4 linked regions of the Homo sapiens genome follow. The protein of the gene in region 1 interacts with the protein of each later gene in a biochemical or structural test. Each region holds a gene or a part of one and is shown in the gene's direction. Other genes may lie near its edges.

Region 1 (4,259 bases):
TGGGGGGAAGGCCAGAGCAGGGGAGTCTGGCTTTGTTTCCTGAACACAATGTCCACTTAGTCATAACAGGAACAGCCTGCTGAAGACCTGACACCTACAGCCTCTGAGAGATGGCAGCATTGGAGGATGGGGAGCGGGGCCTTGAGGGCCTAGGGTGCTTGAGGACACCCACAAAGAAGGGAATGTGAGTATAAGCCCTGGAGGGCTTGGAAAGGGGCAACAAAATTCTGCCTGGGGAGGGGGCAGGTGGCAGAGCCCCACCCCGATGGAATGCAGTGCCTGGGGACCAGATGGTGTAAATCCCCAGGCCTGCCAGGCACCTGCACCCTCTGGCAGCCCGGTGAGGCAGAAGGGGACAGCCCCTCACCCACCCCCCTCCTCTCTCAGGCCCTAGGATTAGCACCATCTTCTTCTGCCCACCCCACCCCAGGAGCAGAGGGTAGCAGGGGAGGGCAAAAGCCTATGTGTGCAAATGCGGATGTGCAAATGTGTGCATCCATGTACACAAAAGAAAGTAGAAAAGAAATCTGCAAGCTTGAGTGGGTAAGTGTGAAAAATCTGCATGTGTGGCTGAAGATGGGCACAGACACGGTCAAGTCTGTATGTGAGAGTGCTGAACTGGGGTTCTGTGTGAAAATCTGCCTGAGGCGGCAGGGAGAATCACTGCCATTGCGTGAGCAGGTTGGATGTTGGCCACTCTATCAGGAGCATTAGGGAAGGGGTGGGGACTCCAGACGTGTCCCCAAACCAGGGTGGCCTCAAGACCTTGGGAGAACACTTGTCTGAAGACTTGGGGAACAGAAGGAGACCAGGCATGGCACTTATGCAGACTGAGGCCAGGACAGAATTTCCTGACAAAAGAAAACTGAGCCATGGAGATGGACAACAGATCCCTTCCCTGGGCACCATACTGCAGCTTTTAGTCCCTAGCACTGGGGGCTCCAGTACTAACAGCAGGAAGATGCTCCCAGCCTGGGACTGTGTGAGGGAGGTCAGAATGGGAAGGAGAGGCTGGGGAACAGGGGAGGAAAGCCCATGGTTGGGAGGCGGAGGACAGGCATTTGGCCTGCAGGAGAAGGTGACCCTCACCCATGTTTTCAGTTCACCCTTCGGGTTAAAAATAACTGAGGTAAGGGCCATGGCAGGGTGGGAGAGGCGGTGTGAGAAGGTCCTGTCTTCCCACTATCTGCTCATCAGCCCTTTGAAGGGGAGGAATGTGCCCAAGGACTAAAAAAAGGCCGTGGAGCCAGAGAGGCTGGGGCAGCAGACCTTTCTTGGGCAAATCAGGGGGCCCTGCTGTCCTCCTGTCACCTCCAGAGCCAAAGGATCAAAGGAGGAGGAGCCAGGAGGGGAGAGAGGTGGGAGGGAGGGTCCCTCCGGAAGGACTCCAAATTTAGACAGAGGGTGGGGGAAACGGGATATAAAGGAACTGGAGCTTTGAGGACAGATAGAGAGACTCCTGCGGCCCAGGTAAGAGGAGGTTTGGGGTGGGATGCCCTGCAGCCCGTCCACAGAGCCCCCACCGTGAGGGACCTCCTTCACCAGGAGTGGGGTGCAGGTCAGTTGGAGGCCTAAGGGCTCTATTAAAACTGCCTATCTCCAGGCCCAGGGAAGTTCCCCCTGACACAAGGAGGTTCCACAGGAAACCCAGAAACCTCTTTTCTCCTTCTCTGACTCTCCATTTCTTTCTCTGCATCATTCTGAGTCTCCTACATGTTGTCTCCATCTTTCCATCTTCCTTCCTCCTTTGGATGGCTTCCTTCCCTTGATCCTGGTTTTATCTTGCCTCTTGGTCTTCATCGACACTTGTCACAATCATGCTTCTTTGTCTCTCTCCCTTGTCCTTCCTTCTTGGCACGTGTTCTCACCTCCCTGCCTCTCTGCTTCTAACCCTGTTTCCACACCCCGTCCCTCGCACTCATATTGACTCGGTGCCCTTTCTTTTCTGCCTCTGCGTCTTTCCCTTTCTGACTCCCTGGTCTGTCCTGCCTGTCTGCGCTCTGGGGCTGCCTCCATCCCCGGGTGGCCTGCCTCTGTTGTTCTTCACTCTCCTCATCTGTTCTTCTCTCTGCCCGGCTCTACCTCTGTTGTTCCTTGCTCCACCCACGGTCCAGATTCTTCAGGATTCTCCGTGAAGGGATAACCAGGTGAGAACTGCCCCCATTTTCTCTGCAGAGACTGGGGCATGCTTCTCCTGGGAGCCGGATTGCTGGACCAGGGGTCTGCTGTCCCAAGCACTCAGCGCCAACCCTTAGCATACTCCAGCCAATGCCACCCCAGGGAAACCCCTTACAGAGATTGTCCTTCAGCATCACCTCAGAGGGCAGGAGAAGCAGAGCCCTGAGTAGGGGAGGGTGCAACAGCAGGTGCCTCTCCCAGGGTGGAGGAGAGGAGCGGGGGTAGGGAGGGGGGCTGCAGAGGACAAAGCCACTCGCTGGAGCCTGGGCTCCCTCAGGAGTAACATAGCCCTCCTGTCTCTGACCCAGGGGAAGCACCAAGATGACCGATGCCCAGATGGCTGACTTTGGGGCAGCGGCCCAGTACCTCCGCAAGTCAGAGAAGGAGCGTCTAGAGGCCCAGACCCGGCCCTTTGACATTCGCACTGAGTGCTTCGTGCCCGATGACAAGGAAGAGTTTGTCAAAGCCAAGATTTTGTCCCGGGAGGGAGGCAAGGTCATTGCTGAAACCGAGAATGGGAAGGTGAGTAGGGCATGGCGCCGGGGCAGAAGGGAAGGAGGTCTGGGAAAGAAGATGCAGAGGTGGAGCCACTTGCAGGGGGAGCTGAGAGGGCTGGAGAAAAGCCAAGGCCAGTGGGGATGCCAGGACATGCTCCTTTGAGGAGCCCAGAATCTGATCCCTCTCAAATTGACCTGAGCTGGTGCAACAGGTGCCACCCAGGGCCATGTTCCCCCTGCCAGAGAGGATGCTGAGGAAGAAGAACCTCAGTGTTCGCCTAAGAGGGGTCTTGTAGATAAAGAGGGCACAGACACAGCATTAAATGATGCCCCCTTCTTGCACTTGTATCCCTCTTCCCTGTGCCTCAGTTTCCTCCATGAGTCCACTTTCTCAAATTCCGTTCACCCAAATCAAGAGTAATTCTTAGACCCAGATGAACACAAAGATCAGAAACTTTTGAGCTGAGCACTCTCCTTGACTGGCACTCAGAAGCTCTGGTCCCTGGTTTGCTCACACCAGCCAAGAGAATCACCCCTGGTTACCAGCTGCGGCTCAGGGCTGTGTGCCTCATGAACTCGTTGACTGAATGTTACAACCCATTGAAGTGTAGAATAACAGGCCACAATCCCCTGGGGCTTTTGACTCTGATCCCAGCTCTGCCACCCGCTAGTCACTGTGCAGGCAAATCATTTAGTCATTTAGAGCCACGGATTTCTCCACTATAAAAAACACTGGAATACCTACTGGCAGGATCTAATGACATCAGGGCATGGCAAACTGACTGCTGCCAATCAAACCACACCAACAGTGATGGATGGGGAGTGTGGAGTAGATGGGTGAACTACTTTTCCAGCAGGGGTGAAGGTTTGCCCTGAGCAACAGATACCCTAAAGCGCTGCCCGCGGGAGACAGCCTCGGGGTCAGCATAAGGTGTGCACAGATCTGAGAGCTGCCAATCTCCAGGTCTGCCCCAAGACCCTTGGAACATAGGGACTGAAGAGTGATGGTCATGGGCACAGGGTGTCCCCAGGATGGTCTGGGGATCTGGCAAGAGAAAGGTACCCTAGGACAGTCTCTAGGATGGGAGATACAATGGGAAGGGAAATTACCTGGGGAAAGTGTCCCAGGGGACATCGGGGTAGGGGCCGGGGCACTGGTCAGAGCAAGGGGAGCAAGGCCAAGTCCCTGTGTCCTGGGAGGAGGTCAGTGGGCAGTGCTGGCAAGGGTCCCGGAGGGATTGTGGTCACTCATCCTCCTGCTTATGCGCCCCCTCCAGACGGTGACTGTGAAGGAGGACCAGGTGTTGCAGCAGAACCCACCCAAGTTCGACAAGATTGAGGACATGGCCATGCTGACCTTCCTGCACGAGCCCGCGGTGCTTTTCAACCTCAAGGAGCGCTACGCGGCCTGGATGATATATGTGAGTGGCTCCTGCACACTGCAGAGGCTTCCTGTGCTGCGTGGAGGCCTAAATAAGCCAGGGGGGCTCTCCCAAGAAGAGGGGGAGAGACTCCCAAGGGACCCAAGTCCCCTTCCCCCCTCCACCCCTAGTCAGCTGCAGGAGGAGTAGAGCCAGCTGGAGT
Region 2 (3,566 bases), on another chromosome or scaffold:
AGAGGTCACCCTCAGGAGGCAGCCTCTTTAACATTTGACAGCTGTCATTTTTGTATCTCTTGTATTGAGCCAAACTCTCCTCTCCTATAACTTACCAGGGGGTCCTGAGACCTCTGGAGCCACACAGAATAAATTTCTTTCTTCTTCCAGAAAATTGTTTTCTCTACCAAGTAGCATAAATATTAACCACCACCTCCCATGTCCATCCTTCAAATTTTCACCAGTTTAAACACTCTAGTTCCTTATTTCATTAAATGACAAAATTATGTTTCATTTACTACTGGTAGGTGTGATATTTTAAAAAACTGTTTAAAAGAAAGAGGCATTCTATCCAAGGCCCAAAGTAATAAGTGAGTTCGTCTGAGAGGCTTCTTCAGGATATGTTAGTCTCACCCTAGGGAGATATTAGATGTCTACATTCTAAGTCATAGGTTAGAAAAGCAGTGGTCAGATTGAGCATCTGGAAAAGATTAGGGGCTATCTAGACCAGAGGTCAACAACTATGGCCCACAAGCCAAATCTAGCCTGCCACCTGTTGTATATCCCACAGGTAAGAATAGTTTTTACATCTTTTAATGGTTAAGAACAAATTAAAAGAAGAATATTTTGTGACATGTGAAAGTTGTATGAACTTCAAATCTGTGTTCAAGTTTTATTGAAACATCATGCTCATTCGTTTACATACTGTCAATGGATGGTCCTGCACTACAATGGCAGAGTTGAGTAGTTGCCACAGAGACCACATGGACTGCAAAGCATAAAATCTTTACTATCAGGCCCTTTACAGAAAGAGTCTGCCAACTTCTGGTCTAGATCAAAAGTTTATAATCAATAATGACTGCCCTTGTCTCAAAAAGACTAGATTCTAGTCTCTTGATTGAGTGAAAACAATGGGAGCCATCAGCAAAACATTCCTTAAAATATTACACAAAAAGATAAGAAAAACTATTTCTGTCTAAATTGTTCTCTAGAACCTGGAATCTTGGTTTCCTGGGGCTTAGAACTGGATCAGCTGGCTTGGGGATTTATGCATCCCAGAGTGAAATGGAGCTCTGGGCCTAGAGCAGCAGCAGCAGAGCACAAGACAGAGGCCTGAGTCCATTCCTTCTCTGGGTGGAGCAGATTGTCTGACATGTCATCCCACCAATCACAGGCTTAGAGACACAGTGAAGGCCCTGACTCGGGAACAAGAGAAGCTCCTTGGGCAACTGAAAGAAGTACAAGCAGACAAGGAGCAAAGTGAGGTAAGGGGCTCAGAGTTGATTTGCTTTCTCCATTGTCCAGCCAGTGTTTGATTCCCTCTCGAGAGCCAGACACCAAAGGGAATAAAAATGTAAAGAAGACATTGTGTGCACTCTACTAGGGAACATAAGACATATACCTAAATCAGGATTAGTCAGAGTGGAAAAGTGGAATATAAGAGTGTCACAAGAGAAATTTTTTTTGTTTGTTTTTTGGAGACAGAGTCTTACTTTGTCTCCTGTGCTGAAGTGCAGTGGTACGATCTTAGCTCAGTGCAACCTCTGCCTCCTGGGTTCAAGCAACTCTCACGTCTCAGTTACCTGAGCAGCGGGGATTACAGCCATGTGCCACCATGCCCAGCTAACTTTTGTATTTTTAGTAGAGACAGGGTTTCACCATGTTGGGCAGGCTGGTCTCGAACTCTTGACCTCAAGTGATCCACCCACCTCAGCTTCCCAAATTGCTGGGATTACAGGTGTGAGCCACTGCGCCTGGCCTCAAGAGAAATCTAATAAAGTATTGTGGAGCTCCAGGGAGGTGTATGAGTACACATCTTGTTAGAGACATTAGAAAAGTCTTTTTAAAATGGGTGTGGAGGCCAGGCACAGTGGCTCATGCCTGTAATCCCAGCACTTTGGGAGGCAGAGGCAGGCGGATCCCCTGAGGTCAGTTCAAGACCAGCCTGGCCAACATGGTGAAACCCCATCTCTACTAAAAATACAAAAATTAGCCAGGTGTGGTGTCAGGTGCCTGTAATCCCAGCTACTCAGGAGGCTGAGGCAGGAGAATCACTTGAACCCGGGAGGCAGAAATTGCAGTGAGCCTAGATCACACTACGGCTCTCCAGCCTGGGCAACAGAGTGAGACTCTGTGCCAAAAAAAAAAAAAAAAAAAAAAAAAGGGAGGGCCATGGCTGGGCGTGGTAGCTCACACCTGTGATCATAACACTTTGGGAGGCCAAGGCGAGAGGATTGTTCAAGCCCAGGGGTTCAAAACCAGCCTGGGCAACGTAGTGAGACCCCATCTCTACAAAAAATTTTAAAAATTAGCCAGGCATGGTGGCATGCACCTGTAGTCCCAGCTACTCAGGAAGCTGAGGTGGAAGGATTGCTTGAGCCCAGGAGGTCAAGGCTGCAGTGTGCTGTGATCGCACCCCTGAACTTCAGCCTGGGTGACAGAGCAAGATTCTGTCTCAGAAAAAAAAGGGGTGGGGTGTGGGGCCTAGTACTTTCAAACCTTTTTAGCAGAACCCTTTCCTCTCCTCCCACCAATAAAGTTTTTAATCTTGTGTGGAATCTCACTGAATAAACAAAAACAATGTTTTATTACTATAAATTTATTTTTATAAATTTGAATGTATAACCTTTACTTAAAAGGTAATGAAAGCACTTAGGTAATTTTGAGGCATACCAAACTTTGAAATGAGAGGCTATCGAAGACTGTTCTGCCAGCCTCAGCAACTAATGTATTTCCGTATTTTATTTTGGTTGTACAATATCAAGAACACCTTGAGTCACACACAAGTAGGTGCAAATAACAATTTTTAAACTGTCCACCTTGCAACTCAGTTTACTCTTCAATTCAATAGAAAATACAGTAGAAACTATTCTGAGCTTTGCAAAAAAATGAATTAACCTGGAAACATATGTCAATTGGTGATCTCCAGTGTGTTAACTTGTGATTTTATGGGTTTTATTTGTTTTGTTTGTTTGTTTTGAGACGGAGTTTCATCTTGTTGCCCAGGCTGGAGTGCAGTGGCGCGATCTCGGCTCACTGCAACTTCTGCCTTCCGGGTTCAAGAGATTCTTCTGTCTCAGCCTCCTGAGTAGCTGGGATTACAGGCACCCGCCACCACGCCCAGCTAATTTTTTGTATTTTTAGTAGAGATGGGGTTTCACCATGTTGGCCAGGCTGGTCTGGAACTTCTGACCTCAGGTGATCCGCCCACCTCGGCCTCCCAAATCATGCCGAGATTGCAGGCATGAGCCACTGCACCTGGCCTTGTGTTGTTTTTCTTTTTTTAACATAATTGTTAATAATTTAGAAGACATTCAAATCAAGTATCTGCAGAACTCCTAAATCCCTTCTTCAGTACCCTGGGTTTATGTGGAAGATTGTTAAAAAACCCTTTGCTCAGCAGTGAGAATAGGTAGAATATGAGTAGACAGAGATGAGTGTGAGGCTATTCTAGGAACAGAGAAAGACGTGAGCAAAGGCTTAAAGGCCAGAACACTCAGGGCAGTTGAATGTGCGGGTGAAGTGTTTGAGATAAGGCCTAGGTTAGACTGTGGTGGATCTTGAGCTTCATTTTTATTCCACAAGCG
Region 3 (3,566 bases), on another chromosome or scaffold:
ACTAAATGCTTTTAAAAATGCCCTTTTAATTTACTATTAAAAGAATATTCCTAGCAGAAGTAGTCTTGGATGCTAAATTCTATTTTAAGAATAACTAAAATTAGAATTCTGTTCTTTTTATAACACCTGTTACACACACACCCCTACCTAGTGTGTCGGAATCAGTTTGTATGGGCTCACCAAAGCCTACTGTTCAATTTTCAGGAGTTTTGTAAGCCATTTGATGTCAGACAAGTGGCCTGAAGTTTGTTATGGTGGTGGTATTTACACCATGAAAATTGGCATGTTATGGTGGTAGTATTTACACCATGAAAACTGCTACAAATAGAAATCTTTTTCTTCTTCTCTTGGAGAGCCACTTGTTGAACACTTACCAGCTCACCTGTGCTTGAAAGTATTTCTTCAAATAAAATGAAAGCTGGTTAGCTTTGAAAATTTTTTGTATAAAAGTTTACACGGGAAAAAAATAAACTAATTTTTTTTTCCACCTGTGTTTTCAGGGATACGAAAAGACCGAAGAGGAGGGAGAATGTTGAAACACAAGCGCCAGAGAGATGATGGGGAGGGCAGGGGTGAAGTGGGGTCTGCTGGAGACATGAGAGCTGCCAACCTTTGGCCAAGCCCGCTCATGATCAAACGCTCTAAGAAGAACAGCCTGGCCTTGTCCCTGACGGCCGACCAGATGGTCAGTGCCTTGTTGGATGCTGAGCCCCCGATACTCTATTCCGAGTATGATCCTACCAGACCCTTCAGTGAAGCTTCGATGATGGGCTTACTGACCAACCTGGCAGACAGGGAGCTGGTTCACATGATCAACTGGGCGAAGAGGGTGCCAGGTAAGAATGCGAAGCGCAGCTTTTAAGAGTCAATAGCTTTTCAAGAACTTGTTGTGATGTCATGGGAGAAATAGTGGGGGAAAAAGAAGCAATAACATGTTATGTAATTGGTTTCAAGGTTACAGGAGATGTGTTCATTTTCAGTATCAATACACTGTAATTTTCCAGGAGATTAGGAAATAATATTTTTAAATCAGAATCTAGAAGACTGAAATTCTTAAATTGACATAATTTATTTTTAACCCATCTCATTTACCAAAAAGATTTAGGGTGGACACTACATGGTAAAACTATTTAATAGTGTATGTTCACAGTAGCAGAAACTTTTAACACTAAATGAACTACAAAAGTTTGTAATATTAATGACCTTTGTTGAAAACATCTCAATTATTAATCAAACGATTTTATCTTAAAAAGATTTTTAAGATTCGGTGTGGTGGCTCGTGCCTGTAATCCTAGCACTTTTTGGGGCTGAGGTGGGAGGATTGCTTGAGCCCAGGAGCTTGAGGCCATCCGGGGCAACGTGGCGAAACCCTGTCTCTACAACAAATTTTTAAAAATTAGCTGGATGCAGTGGCACACACCTGTGGTCCCAGTTATGGGGGAGGCCGAGGTGAGAGGATGGCTTGAGTCCAGGAGGTCAAAGCTACAGTGAACCATGTTTGTGTGGAGTGCCACTGCACTCCAGCCCAGGTGACAGAGCAAGACCGTGTCATAAAAAATAAACCACACAAAAAAAGAGAAAGATCTTTATGGATTAAAAAGATAATAATAAGTGTATTTACTGAATGCCAATTATTTATCCAACCTGGTGTATGCTTAGTGTTTTAGGAGAAAGAGAAAGGCAATGGAAAAATAAATTAAGGTATCATCCCTGAAAGAAACTTTTAGAAAGACACAGTGGCTGAAGTGATACCTTGTTCCTTCAGTTGATTCTCTCAGAACTGGTGTTCTGGTAAAATTGGACTGTTACTCCTGTTATTCAGGGAGAAGAACTCAAGTTTGTATGGCAACAAGACTAGAAAATGACTTTCTCCCTGCCCCAGTGTATTCGTTCAGGAGCTAATGTAGATAAACCGAGGCAAGAAGAAGCTAAATTTTTTTTCTGGGCTTATAGGTTAAATGAGTGATAGATTTAGTTGGAGGTTTTCTCATTTGGTTTCTTTTAATAGATGAAATTAATTGTTTCCTATGAAGCATGAAATGTTTTATATGAAACTAAAAAAATGTGGAGTTTGTACTTGCATTTCAAGGGTCACTGCTCTGTTATAGGCCAAGTGAACTTATGTCTGGCCTTAGAGAATCTTACATGTATTTGCATCTATCAGTATATAAACATGTGGGCCGTAGAATAAGGAGCCAGCAGTACCAGAACCCAGCCTTGTTAGAGGCCACCATTTTGGTGGTTGAGTGGTTATTAGTTTACATGGAAGCATGGAGAATAATAGGCAAATGTAGGTTTTCAGTGTCAGTCGAACTGGCAAACAAAAATTTCTGGTCATCTTCAGAATGAAAAGTTTTCTTGAGTACCTACATATTTTAGCATTTTCATATGAAGCAGATACATTATAAGTTAATTGTTGGAATCTAATTGTAATATGGCTGTAAGTTTTTTCTTTATATTTGTTATTGCCTTGTTCTTATATTATAGGGAAAGAGAAACAAACAAACAAGCAAAGAAACTAATGGTCATATATTTGAGAGCCAACTCTTGGTTGCTGTTCAGTTTTATTTTCCTGTAAACATATATTTTCCCTTATGAAATCTTGGGAATATTAGCTCTGGAGCACTGCTGAACTCAAGTACAGACATTTTCATGTGTATCAGTAGATTCCCATCATGACATTTTTATAATAATGTTGAAGAGCATTTTAAACAACTGGAATTAAGCTCAAATACATTACCAGTGGTTGAAGAATTCACATCAATAATCTTCTGAATTTAGGAATAAAATGGAGAAGTCAAGGAAAGGAAAATATTATACACAGGCTAGCAATAGTTAAAATACAATTATTAAAGCCAGAGCTAGACAAAATTATGGCAATGAGATGTGTAACAAAACCACTCTGTAACTTCATCATGTTCGTTTAAAAGACCTGAATGATTCCAAAATCCTTAGACCAATAAACTATGTCTTCTTACTTGATAATTAAAAAAAAGAATTATAAAGGCAAAAATGAAATTATATGTATGTGTGTTTGTGTGTGTTCCATGGGAATACAGCTGTTGTAAATCAAAGGCCTACTTGCCTGACCAAGCAGAATAAAAATAGTCATTGATTTTAAAGAGACTAAAAGTGAGGGAAGAAAAAAGTCTTCTGCAAAAGCTCTACAGATGGTTGTCAAACTTTTCAGAAAAATAGACAAAGCAACATTTTGAAAAGGATTTATATCTTTTATATATTCAAATACCATCTGTTATTTAAAAAACATAGCCCACACTGAATATCTGATATAGACAATATAACGTTTATGAGATAATAGTTTGAGAATGACAATAATAATAGTAAGTTTTAAAAGAGGAAATAAGCCGGGCACAGTGGCTCATGCCTGTAATCCCAGCACTTTGGGAGGCCGAGGCGGGTGGATCACCTGAGGTCAGGAGTTCAAGACCAGCCTGGCCAACATGACAAAACCCTGTCTCTACAAAACAGTACAAAAATTAGCCAGGCTTGGTGGCACACATCCATAGTCCCAGGTACTTGGGATGTTGAGGTGGGAGAATTGCTTG
Region 4 (3,566 bases), on another chromosome or scaffold:
TATCAACCATTTATTGGGTACCTATTGTGTGCAGGCGCTGTTCTAAGTACTTTCAGGCATTTTTCCTATCTGCTTCTCATAGTAACCCGGGAAGGCATTCCTGTCTCCATTTTACCATGAGGAAATGGAAGCTCAGAGAGGATCAGAGATTTGTCCAAGCCCACACAGCTAGCAAGTGGTAGAGCTAAGAGAGAGAGGGTGTGAGAATATTTTTTATTTTTTTAATTTTTTTTTTTGAGGCAGAGTCTTGGTCTGTTGCCCAGGCTAGAGGGCAGTGGTACGATCTTGGCTCACTGCAACCTCCACCTCCTCGGTTCAAGTGATTCCCCAGCCTCAGCTTCCCGAGTAGCAGGGACTACAGATGCGTGCCAACGTGCCCAGCTAATTATTATATTTTTAGTAGAGACAGGGTTTCACCATGTTGGCCAGGCTGGTCTCAAACTCCTGACCTCAGGTGATCTGCCCGCCTCAGCCTCCCAAAGTGCTGGGATTACAGACGTGCACCACCACACCCAGCTAATTTTTGTATTTTTTGTAGAGACAGGGTTTCACCACGTTGGCCGGGCTGGTCTTGAACTTCTGACCTCAGGTAATGCGCCCGCCTTGGCCTCCCAAAGTTCTGGCATTACAGGCGTGGGCCACCGCGCCTGGCCGGCCGGTGAATATTCTTAATTGCTGAGCTAGATTGCCTCTCATGTTGCTAGAGCACAACACTACAAAATGCAAACATATTGTTGATCATAAGGAATAATAAAATCAATTCCACACCAATGTTAGCCTACCCAGTGCCGACCTATGAAGAGCATGTTATATGTGAACCTTTGAGGCCTTTCCGCATAGTTGAATGACAATGACAGCTGCCCTCTATTGAGGGTCTGCTCTGTGCCGGGCACTCTACATTCATTATAGACAATTTCTACAGACAGATTGCAGTAGTTCTGGGAGGAATCCCACAGGCAAGAGAGGTGAAATCACTAGTCCAAAATCACAAAAATGAATGTAAGAGAACAATCTGGATATGAACCCCGATGCCAAAGTCTGAGCTTGGGAGGGTGGGCATCTGGGAGGGCTGCGGGCGCATGAACCAGACCCTCAGGCTCTTGCCTCACCTCTGCACTCCCTGCCATCCCTTTATCAGGGGATGGAGGCAGGTGGCAATGGCAGACCCCTGCCAGCATAGGGACCCTGGGGTAAACTATGCAAAAAGACAAGCCTGGAAAGGGGCATATTTAAGAACTTCAGAGGACAATAGAGCCCAGGGTGTGATCAGTCATGTAAGGCTGTTTGGAGGTGAGGCATTGACACTGATGGGAACAGTCACCATTTGACATTTGCAAGATGCCTGTTCTGTTTGGGGCTGGGAATCGAAGGTAGTGTTGGCTTTCAATGAGTGTATAGTCTAGCCGGAGACAGAAGACTCAAAAAATCGAATCTACACCAGGCATGGTGGTATGCACCAGTTGCAGCTACTGGGGAGACTGAGGTAGGAGGATTGCTCAGCCCAGGAGTTCGAGGCTGCAGTGTATCTGTGAATCGCTGCTGCACTCCAGCCTGGACAATATGGTGAGACCCTGTCTCAAAACAAACAAACAAACAAACAAACAAACAAAGGCTGGGTGCTGTGGATCACGCCTGTAATCCCAGCACTTTGGGAGGCTGAGGTGGGTGGATCACATGAGGCCAGGAGTTTGAGACCAGCCTGCCCAACATGGTGAAACCCCATCTCTACTAAAAAATACAAAAATTAGCTGGGCATGGTGGTGCACGTCTGTAATCTCAGCTACTCAGGAGGCTGAGGCATCAGAAACTCAGGAGGTGGAGTTTGCAGTGAGCTAAGATCACACCACTGCACTCCAGCCTGGGCAAAAAATCAAAACAGAACAACACAACAACAAAAAAATCCCCCCCAGGCCCCAATGAATCTAGGTTAGGAAATGACTGATGTCCCAAGAGAAGCACAAATAACAGGTTGGAGGTCTCAAGGAAGAAAGGTAGTTCTAAGCATATGTGTTAGGGGAGAAAGTAGAGGAAGAGACTTGGGCCTTTGAAAGAATCTCTGGACTAGAAGTCAGGCTTGTGCTGGGCTGTTGGACAGCCCTGGGCTACCCACTCACCAGTCACCATGACATGGGGCATACACACTGCTCCTTCTCTGAGCCTCAGGGGCAACCTCATGGCTCAGAGAGGGTCAGAGGTTTATCCAAGGCCATACAGCTAGAAAGTGGTGAAGCTAAGAGAAAGAGAGAGGGTATGACTGACTCTGTGGTGAATATTCTTTTTTAAAAAAATTGTTTTCTTATGGAGAATGTTAATAAATTCAAGATGGTGAATATTATTGATTCCTATGCTAGTTATTAATTTATTCTTTCTTTCTTTCTTTCTTTTTTTTTTTTTTTGAGACGGAGTTTTGCTCTTGTTGCCCAGGCTGGAGTGCAATGGTGCGATCTCGGCTCACCGCAACCTCTGCCTCCTGGTTTCAAGTGATTCTCCTGCCTCAGCCTCCCGAGTAGCTGGGATTACAGGTGCATGCCACCATGCCTGGTTAATTTTTTTGAGTTTTTAGTAGAGACGGGGTTTCATCATATTGGTCAAGCTGGTCTTGAACTCCTGACCTCAGGTGACTCTCCCACCTCGGCCTCCCAAAGTGCTGGGATTACAGGCGTGAGCCACTGCGCCCAGCCTTATTGATTTATTCTTTCTACCTTTGTTTAATTACCACCTCCTCTATGCCAGGCACTGTACAGTGTAGGCACAGGGGTGAAGAAAACAGGCAAGTTTCCCTACCTTGATGGAGGTTACAGTCTGGTAGATTAAATATAGAATTAAATGAGGCCATCAGTATAAATTTCTCAGCTCAGAGCCCAGCCTGCAGTAACCAAAGCTAAGGTGACTATAATTAGAGCAACTGAACTCTAGGCTCCTCTGCCCTTACTTGCTGTATGACCTTGGACGAGTCAATTCACTTTTCTGGAGCCCAGTTTCCTCTTCTCTAAAACATCTCCAGGTCTGACTCTGGAATTCTATGGCCCTTTCTGTGTCCTTGGCACTGGCAGAGCCTCAGGCTAACTCCCTCTTAGGATGTGGGGACAGATTTGGTGTCATTGGCTTCCCAAGTCCTTGGTCCCCAGAAGATGAAAGATTTTAGGGCAGCCAAACACTGAGGGCCCAGGGCATAAATCTGGAGATTCACAGACACACTGCAGCCTCGAATTCCTGGGCTGAGCAATCCTCCTGCCTCAGCCTCCCCAGTAGCTGCGACTGGTGCATTGGAGCTGGGGAGGGGGATGCAGGGACACAGGACCCCCATGACTTGTGACTGTTCTCCACTGCAGTCGGCCGCTGCAGAAGGGCAGTCACCCCATGTGCAAGGAGCACGAAGATGAGAAAATCAACATCTACTGTCTCACGTGTGAGGTGCCCACCTGCTCCATGTGCAAGGTGTTTGGGATCCACAAGGCCTGCGAGGTGGCCCCATTGCAGAGTGTCTTCCAGGGACAAAAGGTACTGTCTCCAGCCACTTTTACCCCCAGCCTGGGCCTGCTGGGCACGGCCTGATGATTCAGGAG

The links.
Region 2: the proteins of MYH6 (region 1) and CALCOCO1 form a complex in vitro, tested with the Homo sapiens proteins (one study listed by BioGRID).
Region 3: the proteins of MYH6 (region 1) and ESR1 form a complex in vitro, tested with the Homo sapiens proteins (one study listed by BioGRID).
Region 4: of the proteins of MYH6 (region 1) and TRIM63, one has a biochemical effect on the other in vitro, tested with the Homo sapiens proteins (one study listed by BioGRID).

What each region holds. Positions count from the first base shown.
Region 1 is NC_000014.9:23,405,464-23,409,722, reverse strand, and holds the start of MYH6 (myosin-6), read left to right. Parts: upstream 1-1,449; 5' UTR 1,450-1,470; intron 1,471-2,114; 5' UTR 2,115-2,147; intron 2,148-2,486; 5' UTR 2,487-2,499; coding exon 2,500-2,700; intron 2,701-3,952; coding exon 3,953-4,096; intron 4,097-4,259. UniProt on the Homo sapiens protein: Muscle contraction.
Region 2 is NC_000012.12:53,717,417-53,720,982, reverse strand, and holds part of CALCOCO1 (calcium-binding and coiled-coil domain-containing protein 1), read left to right. Parts: intron 1-1,153; coding exon 1,154-1,244; intron 1,245-3,566. UniProt on the Homo sapiens protein: Functions as a coactivator for aryl hydrocarbon and nuclear receptors (NR). Recruited to promoters through its contact with the N-terminal basic helix-loop-helix-Per-Arnt-Sim (PAS) domain of transcription factors or coactivators, such as NCOA2.
Region 3 is NC_000006.12:151,943,673-151,947,238, forward strand, and holds part of ESR1 (estrogen receptor), read left to right. Parts: intron 1-500; coding exon 501-836; intron 837-3,566.
Region 4 is NC_000001.11:26,061,101-26,064,666, reverse strand, and holds part of TRIM63 (E3 ubiquitin-protein ligase TRIM63), read left to right. Parts: intron 1-3,332; coding exon 3,333-3,501; intron 3,502-3,566. UniProt on the Homo sapiens protein: E3 ubiquitin ligase. Mediates the ubiquitination and subsequent proteasomal degradation of CKM, GMEB1 and HIBADH.